2 separate regions of the Homo sapiens genome follow, and region 2 is linked to region 1. Evidence: fine-mapped expression QTL. A gene starts in region 1. The other region holds a variant in brackets. All regions are shown on one strand. Distances are between the middles of the regions. Region 1 holds the start of KLHL42 (kelch like family member 42). Region 2 overlaps LOC105369709 (a long non-coding RNA gene).

The links.
Region 2: its variant is fine-mapped to the expression of KLHL42 in pancreas (GTEx, PIP above 0.99).

Annotation. Positions count from the first base shown.
Region 1 is chr12:27,777,686-27,783,057 of GRCh38, forward strand. KLHL42 (kelch like family member 42) reads left to right here and starts at 2,548. Exons shown (of 3, transcript NM_020782.2): 1 at 2,548-3,517. The coding sequence starts at 2,646. It overlaps MANSC4 (MANSC domain containing 4), which reads right to left and starts at 2,551. Exons shown (of 4, transcript NM_001146221.5): 1 at 2,525-2,551. RefSeq lists silencers at 2,150-2,369, 2,390-2,699 and an enhancer at 2,565-3,064.
Region 2 is chr12:27,806,038-27,811,409 of GRCh38, forward strand. It overlaps LOC105369709 (a long non-coding RNA gene), which reads right to left. Exons shown (of 3, transcript XR_931459.3): 3 at 5,278-5,364. It also overlaps the pseudogene RN7SKP15. Among named protein-coding and RNA genes, the nearest start is that of MANSC4, 28 kb to the left of the region's middle. RefSeq lists an enhancer at 1,418-1,587. The variant T/G (reference allele first, on the strand shown) is at 2,957.

The DNA of each region.
Region 1 (5,372 bases):
ATAGATCCATTTTTATTTCCTTCATTTTTTTCCAGGGAGGCCAGAATCTACTAGAACATTTTCTATGTCTTTTATTTTTTAGTTCCTTATTCCTAGCATTATTATAAAGAAAATAGGCCAGGCACAGTAGTGCTTTGAGAGACCAAGGCAGCAGGATCACTTGGGGTGGCAGGATCCCTTGGGGCCAGGAGTTTGAGGTCTGTCTTGGGCAAGGTAGCAAGACCCTATCTCTATGGAAAAAAAAAATGCATTTTTTTTTGCTGGGCATGGAGGCTCATGCCTGTAATCCCAGCACTTTGGGAGGCCGAGGTGGGTGGATCACGTGAGGTCGGGAGTTCCAGACCAGCCTGACCAACATGGTGAAACCCCGTCTCTACTAAAAATACAAAATTAGCCGGGTGTGGTGGCTCATGCCTGGAATCCCAGCTACTCCGGAGGCTGAGGCAGGAGAATCACTTGAACCCGGGAGGTGGAGGTTGCAGAAAGCTGAGATCGCAGCATTGCACTCCAGCCTGGGCAACAAGAGGGAAACTCTGTCTCAAAAAAAAAAAAAAATGCATTTTTTTTTCTAAAAAATAAAAAGATAAACCTCCTTTCCCAAGTAATAATAATAAACAAAGTAAAAGATGACAACAACACCTCTCTGTGAAGCAGATAAATTTCGTAGTAAGAACCACAAATGTAACCAAACTATGTTGAAAGGATCTCATGTTTCACCTTTGACTTTCTTTTAGTTCTCTGGTTTTTAACCCTTTCTCCTTCCTAAGGTAAAATGTTAGCATGGTAGGATGTATCTTCTTTAAATAGGGGAAATGTACTTATGAAGAAGATATTATTTAACAATCTGTCATTCAAGAAGAAAGCTGAAGCTTGTAATAATAAAAAAAAAAACCAAACACATATTCTCTCCAAGTTAAGGACTGTTTATCATAGGTGGTTCTCAAATCTTGGTTTGGGGTAAGTTTTCAAGGTTTTCTGTTTTTGTTTTGTAAGATAAGAGTGAACACACCCTCTGCTTCCTCCCAATCCTTCTCCCTTCTCCTACCCAAAGATAATCCAAACAATATATTTCTCCCCCCACCCCCTTCCTGGGATGAATTCATTAGCAAGACAAAAAGTCCTTCCTATTATTATTTGGGGTGGGCCTTCTAATTGCAATGTTCAGTGAGAGAACATAGGAAACAAGTGGTCTCTCTTTTCCGAGACGGCGTCTCGCTCTGTCGCCCAGGCTGGAGTGCAGTGGCGCGATCTCGGCTCACTGCAACCTCCGCCTCCCGGGTTCCAGCAATTCTCCTGCCTCAGCCTCCCGAGTAGCTGGGATCACAGGCGCGTGCCACCACGCCCGGCTAATTTTTGTATTTTTAGTAGAGACGGGGTTTCACCATGTTGGCCATGGTGCTCTCGAACTCCTGACCTCGTGATCTGCCCACCTGGGCTTCCCAAAGTCATGGGATTACAGGCGTGAGCCACCGCGCTCAGCCAAACCGCACGTGTGGTCTCTCTTAATAGTCCTCAGATGATGGGGGCAGGGTAGGTGGAGAAAGGGGGTGACAAGAAAAGCTACTTCTTGCAGACATTTATGAGCCAATTTTGTCAGATCTTTTGCGCCAGGATAACATTCCGTAATGGACTGGACTGAAGTAGAAAAGCAATGGCTCATAGAAAACATGGTTTAAAACCAGAAGCCACGTGATGTAACTTTATTTAGTCGGGCTGCGCTTTCATCTTTCTTTTAATAACTTAGGGAGAATAAGGGGCCCCAGTGGCAAATGCAAGCTCCCCTGCCTCCCAACCCGATTCCTCTGAGAACCTGCTGCCATCTGCCTGGACCTCCTGTAAGATGGCTCCTACGCGACCACGCTACCAGAGAATCAGCTCTACGTGCCACCAACATTGCCACCAACTGTCCATAGATCGCCTGCGTGCCTCAGCCCACTGACACTCGATGCCGGACTGGGCCAGAAGGACGACCCCATATTTGATGCCTTTTTGTCTCCCTGGACCAGAGACTCCATCCTTCCCTTTCCTCCCACGCTCATTTCTTTTTCTTTAGCCCGTGTAAAGCAGCGTGGGAGAGAAAACGAATTTCTTCTCCCTGGGGTACCCCGGAGCATCACTGCAGCCCCCAACAAGCGGCGGAGCCGGCGCGCCCCGGGCGGGCGGAGAGGCTGCGGGGACGCGCGCCCTCCGCCTCCCGCAGCTGCGCGTCCGCAGCCGAGGCGCCCGGGCCCGCAGCTTCCCGGGCCTCCCCGAGAGCCGGATCCAGCCGGCAGGTCAGGCCGGCGGCTGGGGTCCCGCGGGCGGAAGTGAGAAGGGCGGCGGGGGAGGAGGCTGCTGGCTGGGAGCTGGAATTCCCTTCCCGCCTGGCGCCGCCCGGGAGAGCCCGCGCGAGGACGCCCGCCGCGCTCCGCCGGCCCTTTTTTGGCGCTGAGGGAAAGGAGAAGGGCAGGGCCGCCGCCTCGCGGGAGCGGGCCCCGGGAGGAGGGGCCGCCGGAGAGGCCGGGCGAGCGCGGGCGGCCCTCACCTCGCCGCTCCTCCCGGGCCGCCATCCCTCGGCGCCCCGCCCGGAACCGGCGCGCGCGTAGGGGCTGGGAGGCCGGCGCGCAGATCTGGCGGTGAGCGCTGCCGCCCCGGGGCCCCCAGCCATGTCGGCCGAGGAGATGGTGCAGATCCGCCTGGAGGACCGCTGCTACCCGGTGAGCAAGAGGAAGCTCATCGAGCAGAGCGACTACTTCCGCGCCCTCTACCGCTCCGGCATGCGCGAGGCCCTGAGCCAGGAGGCCGGCGGCCCGGAGGTGCAGCAGCTGCGCGGCCTCAGCGCGCCGGGCCTGCGGCTGGTGCTGGACTTCATCAACGCCGGCGGGGCCCGCGAAGGCTGGCTCCTGGGCCCGCGCGGGGAAAAGGGCGGCGGGGTGGACGAGGACGAGGAGATGGATGAGGTGAGCCTGCTGTCCGAGCTGGTGGAGGCGGCCTCCTTCCTGCAGGTCACGTCCCTGCTGCAGCTGCTGCTGTCCCAGGTGCGGCTCAATAACTGCCTGGAGATGTACCGCCTGGCGCAGGTGTACGGGCTGCCCGACCTGCAGGAGGCCTGCCTGCGCTTCATGGTCGTCCACTTCCACGAGGTGCTGTGCAAGCCCCAGTTCCACCTCCTGGGGTCTCCTCCCCAAGCTCCAGGGGATGTCAGCCTGAAGCAGAGGCTGAGGGAGGCCCGGATGACTGGGACTCCTGTCCTCGTGGCCCTCGGGGACTTCCTGGGGGGACCCCTGGCCCCTCACCCCTACCAGGGGGAGCCCCCGTCCATGCTCAGGTACGAGGAGATGACTGAGCGTTGGTTCCCGCTGGCCAACAACCTTCCTCCCGACCTGGTCAATGTCAGGGGCTATGGGTCTGCCATCCTGGACAACTACCTCTTCATAGTGGGCGGGTACAGGATCACTAGCCAGGAGATCTCCGCTGCGCATTCCTACAACCCCAGCACCAACGAGTGGCTCCAGGTGGCCTCCATGAACCAGAAGAGGTAAGCACCCCGGCAGAGTGCTGCTGCCTTCTCATTCATTCACTTGTTCATTAGTTCATTACCCCAGTGTTTACTGAGCCAGTAAATAGGGGAGGGTGTGCTGTGGTGGAAATGACATCTTCAGGAATGTTGTTGGCCTTGGCGCTGGCAAAATTCCCAATGAACTAAGAAATTGCGAAGAGGACGTCCCCAGTGAGGTCAAGAAGTGGAGTGGTTTTTTGGCAGGTATTGTGCCTTTAGGTGAAACTGCTTTCTTTGCCTCTGTTCTTGTGAAAAAAGATGTTGTGGTTTCCTACAAGAATACTTTAAAAGAAAATTGCCCCTTAATTTTTAAAAAATTTGTCTTAGTTTTTAGGATTTGATCCTGATGATAATGATACACTGGACAGTAACCTGTAACACTGACTTTGGGGGATTTTTTTCTGATGTCAGTGACTGTGACAACAGAGTCTTCCACACTGTGATACCCATCATGATCAAGAGATAATCACTGGAAATGTATTAACGTTTGCAATAGGGGTTGCTTTTCTTATTTTTTATCCTCTCTTTTGCTTCCTTCCCTGGACAGCCATCGTCATGACCCACAGCTTGAGCCTGGAAGTGTTCAACTACAGAATTGGAATATTTTCATTTACGCAACCTTCTCCCCCTCCCATCCTGCAAATCTCTCCTGCCTCCAACAAGGGTGACTTGAAGAAAGGAAGAGGAGGAGCTTGAGGAGTGGGATGAGAGGGGAGAAGGGAAAGGAACCAGGGAAGGAATATCAAAACAAGAGCAAAGAGCATATACAGGAAGAGATGGTAGGAAATAAAGATGGTAGCGCCTAGGAGGCCTCAGCGTCATTCAGAAGCAGGGAAAAGAATCAATGTAACTCAAGAAAGGATGAAAATACCCTTTCTTCCCATCCACGTGTTTCCATCTCAATCCTCACAGGGTCCTGGTCCTGAAGTGTGGAGCAAGGAGTTGGGGAGCTCACAGCTGGGCAAAGAAAGTCTTAACAGTAACAGAGAATCCTTTATATATCTGTTTATTTGACTCGAGGGTCCTCCTCGGCCAGGGATTATTTGGGGGAAATAACTGGCTTTATTTCTCCTATAATATGAAATTCATTTTGAAAAGTATGCTTTTTCCCCTGATAATACATAGTTACAGAAAACTGGAAAATGGAAAAGAATGAAGAAGCAAAAAGATGATTATTCCTACCCGCTCTTCCTAGAGGCAGTAACCAGGTTGGCATATTTCCTGCCAGCCCATTTTTAATGCATTATTTACACCATTGAGATGATACCATATTTAAAATTTGGTATCAGAAGTGTTATTTTAAAACAAATTCTATGCACTGTAATTGAAACAACAAAGGAACATTGTGTGGCCATGGGTGGTGGTCTGATTAGGGGTGGGCGGCCCTGAGTTCTCTCACTCCTCTTGCATTCCTCTAGCTACACATCATTTGGTGCTCACCAGGCCATCCTTAGTGCCACAGTTCCTCACACTTCTTTCTTCCCTTCATACATCCTTGGTAGTCTTTGTCTTTTTTTCTAGGAAGGCCCTTTTCATCCCCTTAAAAAAAAAAAAAGCATTCAAGTAATGCATGAATGCATGATTCTTAGAAAAACTGCAAATTACACACAAAACTGTGGAGTAAAAAGAGTAAATGTCTGCCCTCAGGGTACAGAAAAAAAGTGTCAGTGTATCAACAGACTTTTGTTACCTTTAGATATTATAAATGTATAAACATTTATACTGTAAATTATATGTATACTTGTATAAATACAGTTAACCCTTAAACAATGTGGGGGCCAGGGACACCAAACCCTGCACAGTCAAAAATCCCCATATAACTTTTGACTCTCCC
Region 2 (5,372 bases), 28 kb after region 1:
GGCCTGGGCTGGGTGATTTTGAAGTAGGTCTCAACACTGGGCAGAGTTTCTGATACAAGAACTTTGGGCATAGGACTTTGTGGGCACAATGCAGTGAGAGTCCCAAAGCTAATCTTGGGAGCTTGTTTGGAGGTTCCAGCAGGGGAGCGCAGCTACTCATACACCCTTGACCCAAGACTGGTCCTCCTCTATTGGGGATGGTTGTCCTCTTCGACTGAGCGTGGAGTTTCGGGAGGGACGCACATGGAGCAGTGAGGGAGGAAGGGGTCACCCATCTAGCCAGCCAGATCAGTCGAATCAACCCTGGCGATCAGTGGGGTGAGAGTTGTCACAGGCAGATCACCCTCACATCCCCTAAGCTAGCCTTGATGGGGAAGCTGTTAGTCTTGGTAAGTGAGCTAGCTGGTTGGTTTACAGTGTTATGGAAGATAAGCCTTCTGAAAATACTTGTTCCTGGATACAGCTTCAGCTATCTCTCTCTCAGGGCACACATATTTGTCTCATAGAACAGTTCTTATGTGCTTGTCTTATTCCTCTTCTAGACTGTAGTTTCCTTGATGATAGAGTGTTTCATTAATCTTTTTATCACTCTATGTCAGGACATACACCAGAGCCATGTAACACAGCAGATTCTGGAAGTATTTGTTAAATTGGAAAGGTTTTGAAGCCTCCTTGGGTTTTCTGAAAATATATAGGTTTCTGGTTTATGTAGCCCTAAAATTTCCTTATAGGAAAAAAGTGTTTTCTTGAGGAACAACGGTTATTAGGAAAACAGTGTACTTTTCTCTTCTACCAACGTACATAATGCGTCACGCAGATGGGAGAAGTTTCGAATTCTGGCTGTGGCTGGAAAGGAAGTTTGCCCACAGACAGTAGTGAGGCAAACGCCTAGGAGTTCAGGGGGCCCCGCAGGCAAATGGGAATGGAGCCCCGTCGCTTCATTATTTTCTCATCACTAGAATCAATATTAGGGCTTGAGTGATATTATTGTCACTCGTAGAACTGTTTTTTTTTTTTTCTAAAATCTGAATTGAATGGCACAAATACACAGTTATTCAGAATCTGAATGCCAGCGGAAAGAGATGTAGAAAAGGTAGGCGATGTTGTTGTCAGAAAGTGTGGTCTGACCCCCATGTGGGCCTGTGAAGGGTTTCCTGAGGAAGTCTAGGGGCAGAGATTCCGCTGCTCAGGCTACTTTCAGCCCTGGTGGATTTCGAGGTGCTGCTGGGTAGGAAGACAAGAAGTCAGAGGCAAGAGATCTAGAAAGAGGCACTGTAATAACAAGTGGTCTGTGGCTGGTGGTGACTTTTCTTATACAATCTGGTGTGTATGTATATGTTTGTCTGTTGGTTTTGTTTATTTATTTGAGACAGAGTCTTGCTTTGTCTCCCAGGCAGAAGTGCAGTAGCCTGATCTCAACTCACTGCAACCTCTGCCCCCTGCCTCCTTAAAAAAAAAAAAAAGATACGCTGATTTTTTTTTTTAAGGAGGTAGGGGGCACCGTTCAGCTCAAAACAGGTACTAAATCTTATCTCAAAAACCTTTTAAAATGTGCTGTTTGCTTCACATGCCATTCATTGAGAAGGGGCGCACTGCCTGAAATGAAGTTTGCTTTGAGTTGCCTACCTTCCCCACCTCCCCACATCCCCATGATGCGTGTCATTTTAATGCCTAATAATGTCATTTTAATAATTACAAGTCTGAAAGAACAGGATAGGTAAATCCTATACCGTTAGCCATAGTTTGATGAGATCGGGCATGTTCAGGGTGGTATGGCCGTAGACCGTTAGCCTTACCTTGATTTCAACTTTTAATGAAAAAACACGGTACCTTTCTTAGCTGAGTGCATGAGTTAGCAGGTACAGATGTTAAATAATGTCTATGAATTCAGTGCTGTCAGTGTTCAGTGTCCCATGGAGGCTAATTTCTGTCACCTTCCAGTACCTGGAAGGTACCCACCAGTCAGGATTTTTTAAAAAACCAACAGACACTGACTCTAGCTGATGAAAGAAAGAAAGAAAGAAAGAAAGAAAGAAAGAAAGAAAGAAAGAAAGAAAGAAAGAAGGAAAGAAAGAAGGAAAGAAAGAAAGAAAGAAAGAAAGAAAAAAGAAAGAAAGAAGGAAAGGAAGGAAGGAAGGAAAGAAGGAAGGAAGGAAAGAAGGAAGGAAGGAAAGAGGGAAGGAAGGGAAGGAAAGAAAAGTTACTAAAAAGATAGGATTTAACTCAATCTTTAATAGGACATGAAAGAAACAGAAACGATGGCAGCTCTGGCAGTTGGGAACTCAAGGACAATCTCTTCGGGGCTCCACCAATGGGACAGAAACTCCAACCCACTTTAGGTCTCGTGCCATGAGCCCTGAATGGAAATGGAAGGAGTGAGCACCCTGATTGTCCTGCTGGGGTCACATGTCCAGCCCTAGGCTGGGGATGGGATGGGGCCCCTTGGGAAGTCTCACCGAGACCGTACCCATTGAGGGAGGGGGATTCTTCAGAGCAAAGCCAAGTGTTCAGTGGTAGAGTCAAGACAGTGTTGTTCTAATCCCGGGAATCACCTGATTCCTTTGTCTTAGGTTTCTTTTTTCTTCTTTGAGACAGAGAAAGACTCTGTTGCCCATGTAGTGGCACCTTCTTGGCTCACTGAAGCCTCTGCCTCCCAGGTTCAAGCGATTTTCCTGCCTCAGCCTCCTGAGTAGCTGGGACTACAGGTGCATGCCACCACGCCCTGCTAATTTTTGTATCTTTAGTAGAGATGGCGTTTCACCTTGTTGGCCAGGCTGCCTGGCCTCAAGTGATTCCCCCCAACTCGGCCTCCCAAAATGTTGTTATTACAGGCGTGAGCCACCATGCCTGGTTTCTTGGCTTTTTTTTTTCTTTGGCTTTTGTTTCTGAGGACCAGAGTCATCCTAAGCCTTCTGGTCTGGGCAGGTCATGGGAAAAAGGAACTCTCCAGGGGCCT[T/G]CTCTGTGACTATTTTAAGAAAATAACACAAACAGACCCAAGGCCAGGGCTCACATTATGGCATATTAGACAGCGTACAAAGGCTGCTGATTTATTCCGTTCTCTTATCTGATAGCCATTAAGGGGAGAAAGAACAGATGGGGAACATTCATTAGCACTGTTTATTATTATCTTCACGGACTATTTCACAGCCCAAACTGTGGCAACTCCATAATCCTTCTGAGGCATTGATTTGGAACACGTTTTATTTTAACCAAGGCAGCCTAATTGTGAGAGAACATTCTACATTTTTTCCCATCTAGTTATTGCCCACAGCAATGCCATCTACATTACCCCGGATTCCAGCCATCTCATGACTTTTGTGGGCCCTCGGCATTTTTGCCTTCATGGGTCCCTTCCTTGGTAAAACAAGATTAAAAATCATATTTTACGACTCTGTATAATGACCAGTATAATCCAGGCTGGACTCATTATTACCCATTCATTATTGTTATACTCATGTTTTTCTTCTTTTTTATATTTTTAGAGACAGGGTCTCGCTCTGTTGCCCAGGCTGGAGTGTAATGACATGATCATGGCTCACTGCAGCCTGGACCTCCTCAACTCAAGCTATCCTCCCGCCTCAGCCTCCCAAATAGCTGGGACTTCAGGCCTGTGCCAACACACCTGGCTAACTTTTGATTTTTTGTAGAGATGGTGGTGCTCTCACTGTGTCGCCCAGGCTGTTCTCAAACTCCTAGACTCAAGCAATCCTCCCACCTTGGCCTCCCAAAATGGTGCTGGGATTACAGGTATGAGCCCCTACACCCAGCTGTTTCTTCTGGTTTTAAAATAAATTACAATGAAAACATTTTTATGGACCTCCAAAAGTATTACAGTGCTTCACCTGTGTGCCTTGAGGATATGGCCCTGCACTCAGTCCATCCTAGACATGCACGCCCTTGTCCTATGCTTAGCATTGTTCTGGAATGATCCAGAATGCTATCCCCAGATATCCCTTTCTGAGAGTTCTGGAGTCAAACGGCCTGGATGAAAATACCAGTTTTATTCTCACTAGCTAGTGACCTGCATTTAACCCTACAGACCTCAGTTTCTTCATTTGTGGTATGCTGGTAATAATGCCAGCTTCCTTATTGGTTTCTTGTGAGGATTACCAGAGAAAATGTCTGTAAACACTTCCCACCGGATCTCACATGCGCTAGATGTTCCATATGTGATAGCTGCATATATTTCTTGTGATCACTACTCCTAGGTCATCAAGGTCATAACCTCACAGAAGGTGCCCCTGAAAGAAATCCAGTTATTTAGTGACTTGCTCCCCTTCCTCATTATCTGGCATGTCTGCAGAAGGGGCTTTGGTGAGGGAGTGCAGGCGGGTCACAAGTAGTCATTGCTATTATTAAAAAAAAAACAAACCAGCAACTCAGCCGGACGTGGTGGCACACACCTGTAATCCCAGCATTTTGGGAGGCCGAGGTAGATGGATCACCTGAGGTTAGGAGTTTGAGACCAGCCCGGCCAACGTGGTGAAACTCTGTCTCTACTAAAAATACAAAAACTAGCCAGGCGTGGTGGTGGGCTCCTATAATCCCAGCTACTCAGAAGGCTGAGGCAGGAGAGTCGCTTGAACCTGGGAGGCAGAGGTTGCAGTGAGCTGAGATCGCACCACTGCACTCCAGCCTGGGCGACAGGAGCAAAACTCCATCTCAAACAAACAAACAAACAACAACAACAAAACAAACTCATACACAGAGAAGTACGGGAGGACTTCCAGATCGCATTTTCTTTGGAAGAGATGCTTGGAAGGAAGAGATCTGAAGCAGTTAAATGGAAGGTTGTGTATTTCCTAGGATTGTTGGTGCCATTGTTGGATTCTGGATTTGGGTGTGGCCACCAAGCTGTCCTGTCACAGTGTAGCCAGCACTGCTGGTGTGAATGCCTGTGATGGAGAGGGAATGCTGTATTCTGGCTCTCTGTGCCTCCGGGCTGGTGGGAAAACGGCCAGACCCTCCACTGCAGCAGATTCATGCAGGGTGATTCGGAGCCACTAAAATGTAAAGAAAGACTGTTTGTTTTCCCAGCTCAGTTTTCAGAGAGGTGAGTAGGTGTTTTCTAGCAGTGCTGATGTTTATTTGTTCTGAAGTCTTTTCTGCTCTGTTGTGGGTCTCAAGCTTCACCGATCTTCAGAGGCAGCTTTGTAAAATGAAGTGGGGTTTTAATGTCTCATACTCCTGGATTTGTTGCATCGCTTCAAAATATTTTCCATCATGGTGCCTGCTCAAAGGTCTCTGTAAAGCATGGTGGTTATTGTCTTTCTGGCACAATTGCCCTTCTATTTCCTTCTGAAGTTTGTAAAGTTATTCGGGCTCTACTGTATAAGGAGCAGGGTCAATCTTACTAGCAGAAGGCTGAAATG